Homo sapiens: one gene and its partners. The protein of the gene in region 3 interacts with the protein of the main gene of each other region in a pairwise test. Each region holds a gene or a part of one and is shown on either strand. Other genes may lie near its edges.

Region 1 (3,500 bases), on a different chromosome or scaffold from region 3:
CTGGCAGAACCATGTTTGTTATGTTTCCTAAGAAAAAATGTAGCATATATGAAACGTGGGTTGCTCAAAGGGAAGTGTTGCCACAAAAAGGAAGGAAATAGCAAATATTTTAAAGTTATAAAAACCAGCAATTTGTATTTACTTTTGATCCTGGCTTCTTATGGTATATCCAGTTGTTACAAAGTACAGCTTTTTGTTACCTGGCAGCAGACCTAATGAAATAAATGTGTTATGTTGTCTAAGTAATAATGTCAACGTTAATTAGGGTAAGTTTGGGTCTTGGCAGTCTTATTAATGTACTTATTACATTTCAGTAGTTGCGGTGGGGAGAATTAATGAACAAACTATTGTATATTAAATGCTTAATATAGCGAAAATAAAGAATACACACTTTTTAAGGAATAGATTAACTAAAACTGTAAATAAAATTAACATAAAAGGAGGAAAGCAAGGAAATAATGAGAAGAGGATTCCGGGGAAATTACATGAATGGGTTGGGGGAGTAGTATGGTTGAGTGTGGTTTCTTAGTCTAGATCCTGTCTTGTTTTGGGTGGTGAATTCACAGGTGCTTGCAGCATTATAATAATTAAACAAAAGCAGGTAATAAGTGTGTGAATGGATGAGAGTGTGATGTTACTATGATTAATCCCATTCTGTGAACTTAAAATTCAGTGAAAATGAGAAAAACGAAGAAAGCACTTTTGCATTTGCTGTGATGCAGAGATTTGATTTTATAAGCTCAATGTTACAGAAAACTAGCAGGTGCTGGTAAGATGACATCAGTTTCTAATATTTAAAGCGTTTTGCAGGTTTGAGAAGAGAAATGAGGACCTTTAAATGAGCATGAGATTTGCTGCCTGATGATTTCTGAAACTTTTGCGCAATGCAGCAAATCAACTGGAATTGTCAGTCAGCCATCTTAAATGACATGGAATCAGAGGAGATGTGTGGTCTCATAAAATCTCATTAATTCACTATTTAATTTTTGCTAAATATTGAATCTATTGATGGAAGAACTGTTGGCAGCTGAGATCTAGTACACTGCTAGATTTTTAGCCTCAAAGTTTAGAGAACTCTTTTCATCAGAGTTGACTCTTCTGGGGAGGGTGAGGAGTGTTGCCTCCCTCTCTGGGGGTTACTTCCTTCCCTTATTCCCCAGTGCTGCCTCTTTGCCTATTTATTTTTTATTTTATTTTTTTGAGACAGTCTCGCTCTATCATCCAGGCTGGAGTGCAGTGGTGCAATCTTGGCTCACTGCGACCTCCGCCTCCCGGGTTCAAGCAATTCTCCTATCTCACCCTCTTGTCTCAGCTGGGACAGGACTACAGGCGTGCAGCACCACACCTGGCTAGTTTTATATTTTTAATAGAGATGGGTTTTCACCACGTAGGCCAGGCTGGTCTCAAACTCCTGACCTCAAGTGATCCGCCCGCCTCGGTCTCCCAAAGTGCTGGGATTACAGGCATGAGCCACCGCAGCCGGCCCATTATTAGTATTTTAATAAAGCTTATTAAATGCTTGCTATATGACAGAAATTGTAGATGCAAAAATAAATAAGTGAATCTTTCCCCTCGAAGTTTAATGGGCATTTGGTTAACCCATTTCTGGTGGCACTAACGTATTCATAAACACTTTCGGTAAAGTTCTCAAGTTATAAAGAGAAATGGGTTGAGTATCCCTTACCCAAAATGCTTGGGACCAGAAGTGTTTCAGATTTCGGATATTTTTAGATTTTTAGAATGCCTGCATATACATAATGAGATACCTTGAGGATGCGACCCATGTCTAAACACAAAATTCATTTATGCTTCATATATACTTTCTACACATAGCCTGAATATGCAATATATGTCATACTTTTAATAATTTTATGCATGCAAAAAGATTTCACTCTGTTTTTGACTGTGACCCATCACATGAAGTCAAGTGTGGAATTTTTTTTTTTTTTTTTTTTTTTTGAGACAGAGTCTCACTCTGTCACACAGGCTGGAATGCAGTGGTGCAATCTTGGCTCACCGCAAGCTCTGCCTTCTGGGTTCACGCCATTCTCCCGCCTCAGCCTCCTGAGTAGCTGGGACTACAGGTGCCCGCCACCATGCCTGGCTAATTTTGTTTCTGTATTTTTAGTAGAGACGGGGTTTCACCGTGTTAGCCAGGATGGTCTCGATCTCCTGACCTCGTGATCCACCCGCCTCAGCCTCCCAAAGTGCTGGTATTAGAGGTGCGAGACACCGCACCCGGCCTGGTGTGGAATGTTCTACTTTGGGGTCATGTTGTTGCTCGGAACGTTTTAGGTTTTGAAGGATTTCAGATTTTCATACTGGAGATAGTCTGTATTGAGAAAAGCAAATATCTAGAGTTTAGTTTGAGTTGCAAACAAATTTTGATTTATCTTTGTGATTTCCCAGAAAGTCGCATTGTTTATTTCTCAGAATCTGTTAGTATTCCCTTTCCATTTTAAGAATAAAGAAAGAACAGAAGAACCTGTAGTTCAGTAGGCTTTGGTTTGCTGACCAGTTGGATGAAGAGGGCTCAAAAGATTAAACTAAGTTAGATGAAAGGTGCATGGTCATTTCTGAAGAAATGTGTTTGGGAGCCACAGTGCTAAGCTGGACACTCAGCATGGTTTTTCTGTGCTGTTGCTCTGTTTGAGTTTTCTTAGATTAAAATTTAAGGGTATGTATCTAGATGTGAACAATGAGTTTTGAGTTCTGGGTAAGCTGGAAGAAAAGTGTACAAAAGCCTCAAAAGCTGTTTGGTGCAGTGTTGTTCCTTCTGGCCAGTGATTATTGGCCAGAAATTTCTAATTGAGAGGGCTTCGCAAATGGAGTATAAACTGCAGTTTGGCCTCATTTCCTATTTAGCTGTGGGTTGGATATTGATCTTAGTCTGGGGATAGAGCAGTGAACAGAACAACCTGGATCTAGGTTTTCTTGGAGTTCAGAGTTATTAAACTAGGCTCTGAAGTGGACATCAGGGGATTCCCTCCAAGACTTTGAGGACATGGTTATATTTCATCCATATTTCTTAAGGAATGGAGTTCATTATTTTTTCTTGATTTGGCCTCAGTGCTTCAGGCCTGTCACGAGACATCCCCAAGTTCCTGAAAAAGGTCAGTTTTGCACTGAAGACATCTATCAGGAGGAGAGTCTGTCTGCATCCCGGCATCCCTTCATTCTTTTCTTTTCTTTTTTTTTTGGCGGAGTCTTTATCTGTCACCCAGGCTGGAGTGCAGTGGTGTGATCTTGGCTCACTGCAACATCCATCTCCCGGGTTCAGGCGATTATCATGCCTCACCCTCCGGAGTAGCTGGGATTACAGGCACCCACCACCACGCCCAGCTAATTTTTGTATTTTTAATAGAGACAGGTTTTCACCGTGTTGGCCAGGCTGATCTCTTAACTCCTGACCTCAAGTGATCCGCCCACCTATGCCTCCCAAAGTGCTGGGATTACAGGCGTGAGCCACCGTGCCTGACCATCCCTTCATTCTTATGTGA
Region 2 (3,500 bases), on a different chromosome or scaffold from region 3:
TATTTTGTTTTCTGAAAAGTGAGCCCAAATTTGAGATAAGGTCATCACCTAGTGTTATTCAGTCTTGGCTTTCATTAGAAATGTTTTTTGAAAGACATTTGATTTTGGACGGTATTCACTAGAAGTGCTCTGTGGCCATTTCTGAATTTGAGTAGCTGACATACATACTTTGTTCAAACTTTATTACCAAGTAAAACCATTGACTTTTAAAAGCCCTCAAGTGCAGAGGTTTGAGTTCATCATACTTTCCAGTTCAAGGTAGGTTTCTGTCATAGGTCAGCAAAAGGCTTCCTCTTGTCATGTTTATTTTTTCATTTTTATTCCCAATTCCCACCTCTGTGGGCAGCTGCTCTGTCGTGTTTGATATGTATCCTTCTATGATACATATCATAGAAAATGTATCCTTCTATGATACATATCATAGAAAATGTATCCTTCTATGATACATATCATAGAAAATGTATCCTTCTATGATACATATCATAGAAAATGTATCCTTCTATGATACATATCATAGAAAATGTATCCTTCTATGATACATATCATAGAAAATGTATCCTTCTATGATACATATCATAGAAAATGTATCCTTCTATGATACATATCATAGAAAATGTATCCTTCTATGATACATATCATAGAAAATGTATCCTTCTATGATACATATCATAGAAAATGTATCCTTCTATGATACATATCATAGAAAATGTATCCTTCTATGATACATATCATAGAAAATGTATCATAGATTTATCATATAGATCATTTTCATATAAATGTATCATATAGATACATGTATCATATAAATACATACATAAATGTATCATATAGATACATTTTCATAGAAAATGAAAATATGAAGTGTTGTTTTGAGTGACTGTGTTTTCAGTTGACACACATGGCATGGTGCCACAGTCTTCGTTTTGTTTCCTGAACTTTGTATTACTCAGAGTGGGAGGTTTTTTTTGTTTTTTGTTTTTTGTTTTGAGACAGGGTGTCTCTATGTTGCCCAGGCTGGTCTCAAACTCCTGGGCTCAGGCAATTCTCCTCCCTTGGCCTCCCAAAGTGCTGGGATTAAAGGCATGAGCCGCTGTAACTGGCCAACAGTGCTGTTTTTTTTTGTTTGTTTGTTTTGTTTTGTTTTGTTTCTTTGTTTTGAGAAAGAGTTTCACTCTTGTTGCCCAGGCTGGAGTGCAATGGCGCAGTCTTGGCTGACCACAACCTCTGCCTCCCGGTTTCAAGCGATTCTCCTGCCTTAGCCTCCCACATAGCTGGGATTTCAGGCATGTGCCACCACGCCTGGCTAATTTTGTATTTTTAGTAGAGATGGGGTTTCTCCATGCTGGTCAGGCTGGTCTCGAACTCTCGACTTCAGGTGATCCTCCCATCTTGGCCTCCCAAAGTGCTGGGATTATGGGCATGAGCCACCACACCCGGCACAGTGCTGTATTTTTAACATCTGTCTGTATTGCCATGTATATGTTACTACTTTGTTTCTAATTGCTGGCAAGGGCATCATGGGGCATGTCTACTGAGTTTTACTTAATACTTCCCCCAAGAGTAGATGCCTGTTGTTAATTTTGATGTGCTAGCATCATTTTTTTTTTTTTTTTTTTTGAGACGGAGTTTCGCTCTTGTTGCCCAGGCTGGAGTACAATGGCGCGATCTCGGCTCACCACAACCTCCACCTCCCAGGTTCAAGCAATTCTCCTGCCTCAGCCTCCCAAGTAGCTGGGATTACAGGCATGCGCCACCACGCCCAGCTAATTTTTTGTATTTTTAGTAGAGATGGGGTTTCTCCATGTTGGTCAGGCTGGTCTCGAACTCCTGACCTCAGGTGATCCGCCTGCCTCGGCCTCCCAAAGTGTTGGGATTACAGGCGTGAGCCACCGTGCCCAGCCCAACGTCACCTTTTTTGCTTTATCTGTTAATGTATAGTGTTTTTTGTTTGTTTGTTTGTTTGTTTTGAGATGAGTCTCGCTCTGTCACCCATGCTGGAGTGCAGTGGCACGATCTCGGCTCACTGCAAACTTCGCCTCCCGGGTTCACACCATTCTCCTGCCTCAGCCTCCCGAGTAGCTGGTGCTACAGGCGCCCGCCACCACACCTGGCTAATTTTTTGTATTTTTAGTAGAGATGGGGTTTCACTGTGTTAGCCAGGATGGTCTCGATCTCCTGACCTGGTGATCCACCCGCCTTGGCCTCCCAAAATGCTAGGATTACAGGTGTGAGCCACTGCGCCCAGCCTAATGTAGTTTTTACCTTTTGCATTCAGATCTTTAATCCATCTAGATTCCACTCTTGAATATGGCATACGGTAGGCTCCGGTTTTATTTTCTTCCATATAGTAGGCAGTTTTTCCAGTACCACCTCCTAAATAGTCCATTCTTTCTTTATTGATCTGTGGTACCTCATCTGATTTCAGGTTCCCTCATGTACATGGATCCGTCTTGAGTGATGTGATTTGTTCCATTGGTCTATTTGCACATTCTTGTGCCAGCACCTTACTGTTTTTATTATTATGGCTTTATAGAATGTCTTAGTAGCTCCTTTGCACTTATTTTTCAAAGCTGGTTTAATCATTTATGGGGCTTTATTATATATCAAAAGTTATCAAAGTCCCTCAAAAACAACAAGAATTTTGATCGATGTTACACTGAACTTCTCTATTAATTTGGGGAAAATTATCTTTGTAAGTAGTCATTTCATCTAAGACCTTTGTAGAGAATATTTTGAAATTTATGTAAAGAGCATAAAAAGCTTTCATTTTCATAAATGGAAATACAGGTCTTATGTATTCTTTGTTAAAGTAATCCCTAGGTACTTCAGTCACTTTCATTATCTTTTTTTTTTTTTCTCGAGACTTGGTCTTGCTCTGTCACCCAGGCTGGAGTGCAGTGGCGACCTCCACAGGCTCAAGTGATCTTCCTACCTCAGCCTTCCAAGTAGCTAGGACTACAGGCACGCACCACCACGCCCAGCTAATTTTTTGTAGAGACGGAGTTTCACCATGTTGTCCAGGCTGATCTTGAACTCCTGAGCTCCAGCAATCCACCCACCTTGGCCTCCCAAAGTTCTGGGATTACAGGCCATTATCTTATTTTTTAAAAAATATTTTTCATGCTGGTATTTGCTGGGGTAGAGGAAAGCTGTTGATTTCTGTAAGTTACCCCTGCTGTATGCCCTTATTATTTCTAATACTTCATTGTTGATTCTGATGTTCTTTCTAAGTAGTTGGTCATATTGTATGCAAATCTATCCTGTCACTTATTTATTTTTCTTCATTTATAGTATTGTCCAGGACTTTTAGTACCATATTAAATAGTATAAGTGATACTGGGTACACAAATTAAGATTTACTTTGGCTGGTTGTGGCAGAAAGTCCAAAGGATAATGGCTTAGACAAGATAGTTTACTTTTCTTTCCCATAAAGGCAGTCTGCAGAAGAGCAATTAATCTAGGGCTGACAGGCAGCCCCTTCTGTGTAGCCATCCTCAGCA
Region 3 (3,489 bases):
AAAGGAGCAGTCCTGACATCGTGAGGGTGGAGAGCTGCACAGGGTTCACTAAATGCTGGGCTGCCTCACCAGGCAGAGGCTCGGGCTGGGGTCATGGCCTAGCCGCCTCCTTCCCTGGGGGCCCCAGGCTCCCACTGAGCCTCATACCTGTGCCCTGGGAGCCACCAGGCCTGCTCCCCTCCTTCCTGCTTCTCCCTCTTCTCACCTTTCTGCTTCTCTGAGCAGAATGGGCCGAGCAGCTGACAAAGATGGGCCGGGGCAAGCACTTCATCGGAGACTTCCTGCCTCCAGACGAGCTGGAAAAGTTTATGGAGACCTTCAAGGCCCTGAAGGTGAGCCAGGAGGGGCCCTAGCTCCAGCCTCTGCCACATGCCAGCCCCTCCTGTAGCTGCCTCACCCTGCAGGTGCCCAAAGTAGCCTGGCTACCCTCTCGATCACAGCAGGAGCCAGGCCTTTTCGCTGCAGGAGGCATCTGTTAATGACAGGCGCCGTCTGTGTAGGGAATTAGCAAACAGCAGCTCAGCTGCTGCCTCAGAAACATTTCCTGGGGCTGCGGGGGAAATTTTGCTTCCAGTGGAGCCAATTAAGTGCAGTTTACAGGCAAAGTGTTTCTCCGGCAGAAGTCCCCACGGACTGGCCTCTCCAGAACCAGAGTTTAACATTCTGCCTCTGCTGCTGTTGGGCTCCTGAGGAGAGAGGGCTGACATGGCACGTCCCCCATTATCTTTTTGAGGTTTTTTTATAAAACTGTTCAGGGCCTGATAACCTCATTAGTGAGGTGGTAACCTCGTTGTCCATCTCTTATTAGTACCTTGTACAACAAATTGCTCTCAGGACATGAACACGGGGCTTCTCTTTGCCAGTGAACCATTGCTTTATCTCAGGTGGATAAGGCCTGTGTAACTCATCCTCTTGCCCTTTTGACTTGGCCACCAGGGGTGCACAGTTTGGCACTAAGGCCCCGGGGACCCTGAGAAGCAGGAGGAGCTTGGTCTGTTTGTTCTCAAGGAGTCTGATCTGGTGAGAGGGAGGCAGATGGGCCACTGGTCCCAGCACTGATTGAAACCAAAGGCAGAAGGTTGGATTTGGGGGCCACCACAGCCCCAGCCCTGGTGGGTGACAGCTACCTCCTCACCTTGCAGGAGGGCCGTGAGCCTGACTACTCAGAGTACAAGGAGTTCAAGCTGACTGTGGAGAACATCGGCTACCAGATGCTGATGAAGATGGGCTGGAAGGAGGGCGAGGGGCTGGGCTCAGAGGGCCAGGGCATCAAGAACCCAGTGAACAAGTGAGTGTGGCCTTGTGGGAGGGCATGGCCATGAACTTGGGGTCTGTGGGTCCCCTGCCGCCTCCCCATTCCCACCCCTTTATGTCATCGCTTTTCCCTTGTGGCAAAATGATCACAGCACCCCACTGCACACCCCTTGTCAGGCACAGGCCTGCAGTGCAGGAGGCCATACGGGCTGGGTCCTCCCCAGTCCCAGGGCCTCCTTCCGTCCCCTCATGAGTATCTCCAGGCCAGATGGGGTGGGTGAGGGTACAGATGGGTCAGGCCTTGTCTGCCTTGTGAAGGGCCTTATTTGAATTCCCCATGAGTGCGAAACCACTCCCAGAGATGGGCAGGAGCTCTCCCAGGTGTGACCCTGGCCCCGAGTGCCCCCTTCAAGGCTGTCCTTGAGTAACCATCCTGCCATCCCAAGAGCTGCGACAACTTGCACTGTGGGCTCCTCCTTCCTGTGTGGGACCCTGGGGCCTAGGCCCCCCCCCCCCGCCCGCCCCGGGGGTCTCCCCTCCTTGACCATTCAGGTTCAAGCTTCTCTCTGTGCAGATATGTCCCAGCCCAGCCCTGCACCCGCGGGAGGTGCTGTTGAGAGCCCAGCTGTGCCCGGCCCCCCGGCCAGAGTTCTGGCCCCAGGTCCCTGCTCACATCCTCTTCTCCCTGTAGGGGCACCACCACAGTGGACGGCGCTGGCTTCGGCATTGACCGGCCGGCGGAGCTCTCCAAGGAGGACGACGAGTATGAGGCGTTCCGCAAGAGGATGATGCTGGCCTACCGCTTCCGGCCCAACCCCCTGGTACGCATGTCCTCCTGGGCTGCCTTTGCTCAGTCGACAGGAGAGGGTGGTGGTAGGAACAGAAGGCTCCCTTCCTTCCTCAGTCCAGCCAGGCTGGGTCTCACCAGCGAGCCCCCTACCACCCACCTGCATTCAAGCCCCCACCCGTCCCCCAAGCCTGCCCTGCCACCTCAAGGGTGCGGGCTCAGCTGCCTCCGGAAGGTTCCAGACAGGAGGAACTGCTGTCTTTAGTGCTAATCCCCTCCTCCTGTTATCTGTTTTGCCTTCCACAGAACAATCCCAGACGGCCTTACTACTGAGTGTTCTGGAAATACATACTTTCTGAATGACCAACCGTCCCTGGACTGTGGAATGTTCCGGCCTGCATTTCTGCCCACCCCTTCCGTTGTCACGAGTGCCGTGCCGTGTAATAAAGTCCCAGTGCTCATCCACCACAGATGCCTGGTCCTGTTGCAGGAAGCCCCTCCTGTTAGCAGCGGGATGCAAGATGCTGTCTCGGGGCTCTCCTTATTGGCCTGTGGAGTCTCCATCCCCGCTCAGCCTGGGTTGCACTGGAGGGGAGGAAGAAAGTTGTTTTCAGCATAGTAAAGCTGGAAGGCCAGGTGCAGTGTCTCACCCCTGTCATCCCAGCACTTTGAGAGGCCAAGGCGGGCGGATCACTGGAGGTCAGGAGTTTAAGACCAGCCTGGCCAACATGGTGAAATCCTGTCTCTACTAAAAATATAAAATTAGCTGGGCATGGTGGTGCACACCTGTCGTCTCAGCTACTCGGGAGGCAGAGGCAGGAGAATGGCTTGAACCTGGGAAGCGGTTGCAGTGAGCCAAGATTGCGCCTTTGCACTCCAGCCTGGGCAAGAGAGCAAGACTCTGTCTCAAATAATAATAATAATAATAAAGCTGGAGACTTGGCCACACCTGGGCTAAAGGAATGTCAGGAACCTCCGAGCCTAGCACTGTGCTGCAGAGGGAGGTTGGGGAGGGGTCTCCAGGCAGGGCCCCACCTTCCCTCAGACCTGTGGGGGCAGGTGGCTTCTGGGCACACCCATGTGCTCTCCTGGCAGGTGGTGCTGGCACGGCCCAGCACACAGGTGTTGGCTGTGGCCCTTCAGGTCCCACCAGTGTGGTAGGCACACGAGTCCCTGGGGCTTGTGTCGTTAGGGGACAGCCGCATGGATGCATGGATGTGCCATGCCAACATGTCAGGCAGCTCCTAGAAGGAAGGGCCTCAGAGCCGGAGGTTTTGAGGCAGGAGGGTAGCCCAGGCCACAGTGTGTGCCAAGACCCCCACATCTGCCCCAGGGCCAGAGCCCCACATTTGTGCCTAAGTCACCCTGGGGATCTTGTTAAGCTGCAGCTGCCGAGTCAGCTGGTTGGGCAGGGCCCTGGGAATTTGCATTTCCATCTGCCCCCACCC

What was found. Proteins that work in one complex are often made in the same cells at the same time.
Region 1: the proteins of SUGP1 (region 3) and RBM17 interact in binary tests that used the Homo sapiens proteins (3 or more experiments, as listed by UniProt).
Region 2: the proteins of SUGP1 (region 3) and RBM10 interact in a two-hybrid assay, tested with the Homo sapiens proteins (one large-scale study listed by BioGRID and IntAct).

Annotation. Positions count from the first base shown.
Region 1 is NC_000010.11:6,092,034-6,095,533, forward strand, and holds part of RBM17 (splicing factor 45), read left to right. Parts: intron 1-3,500. UniProt on the Homo sapiens protein: Splice factor that binds to the single-stranded 3'AG at the exon/intron border and promotes its utilization in the second catalytic step. Involved in the regulation of alternative splicing and the utilization of cryptic splice sites.
Region 2 is NC_000023.11:47,148,221-47,151,720, forward strand, and holds part of RBM10 (RNA-binding protein 10), read left to right. Parts: intron 1-3,500. UniProt on the Homo sapiens protein: Binds to ssRNA containing the consensus sequence 5'-AGGUAA-3'. May be involved in post-transcriptional processing, most probably in mRNA splicing. Binds to RNA homopolymers, with a preference for poly(G) and poly(U) and little for poly(A).
Region 3 is NC_000019.10:19,275,533-19,279,021, reverse strand, and holds the end of SUGP1 (SURP and G-patch domain-containing protein 1), read left to right. Parts: intron 1-225; coding exon 226-332; intron 333-1,142; coding exon 1,143-1,288; intron 1,289-1,945; coding exon 1,946-2,075; intron 2,076-2,347; coding exon 2,348-2,374; 3' UTR 2,375-2,989; downstream 2,990-3,489.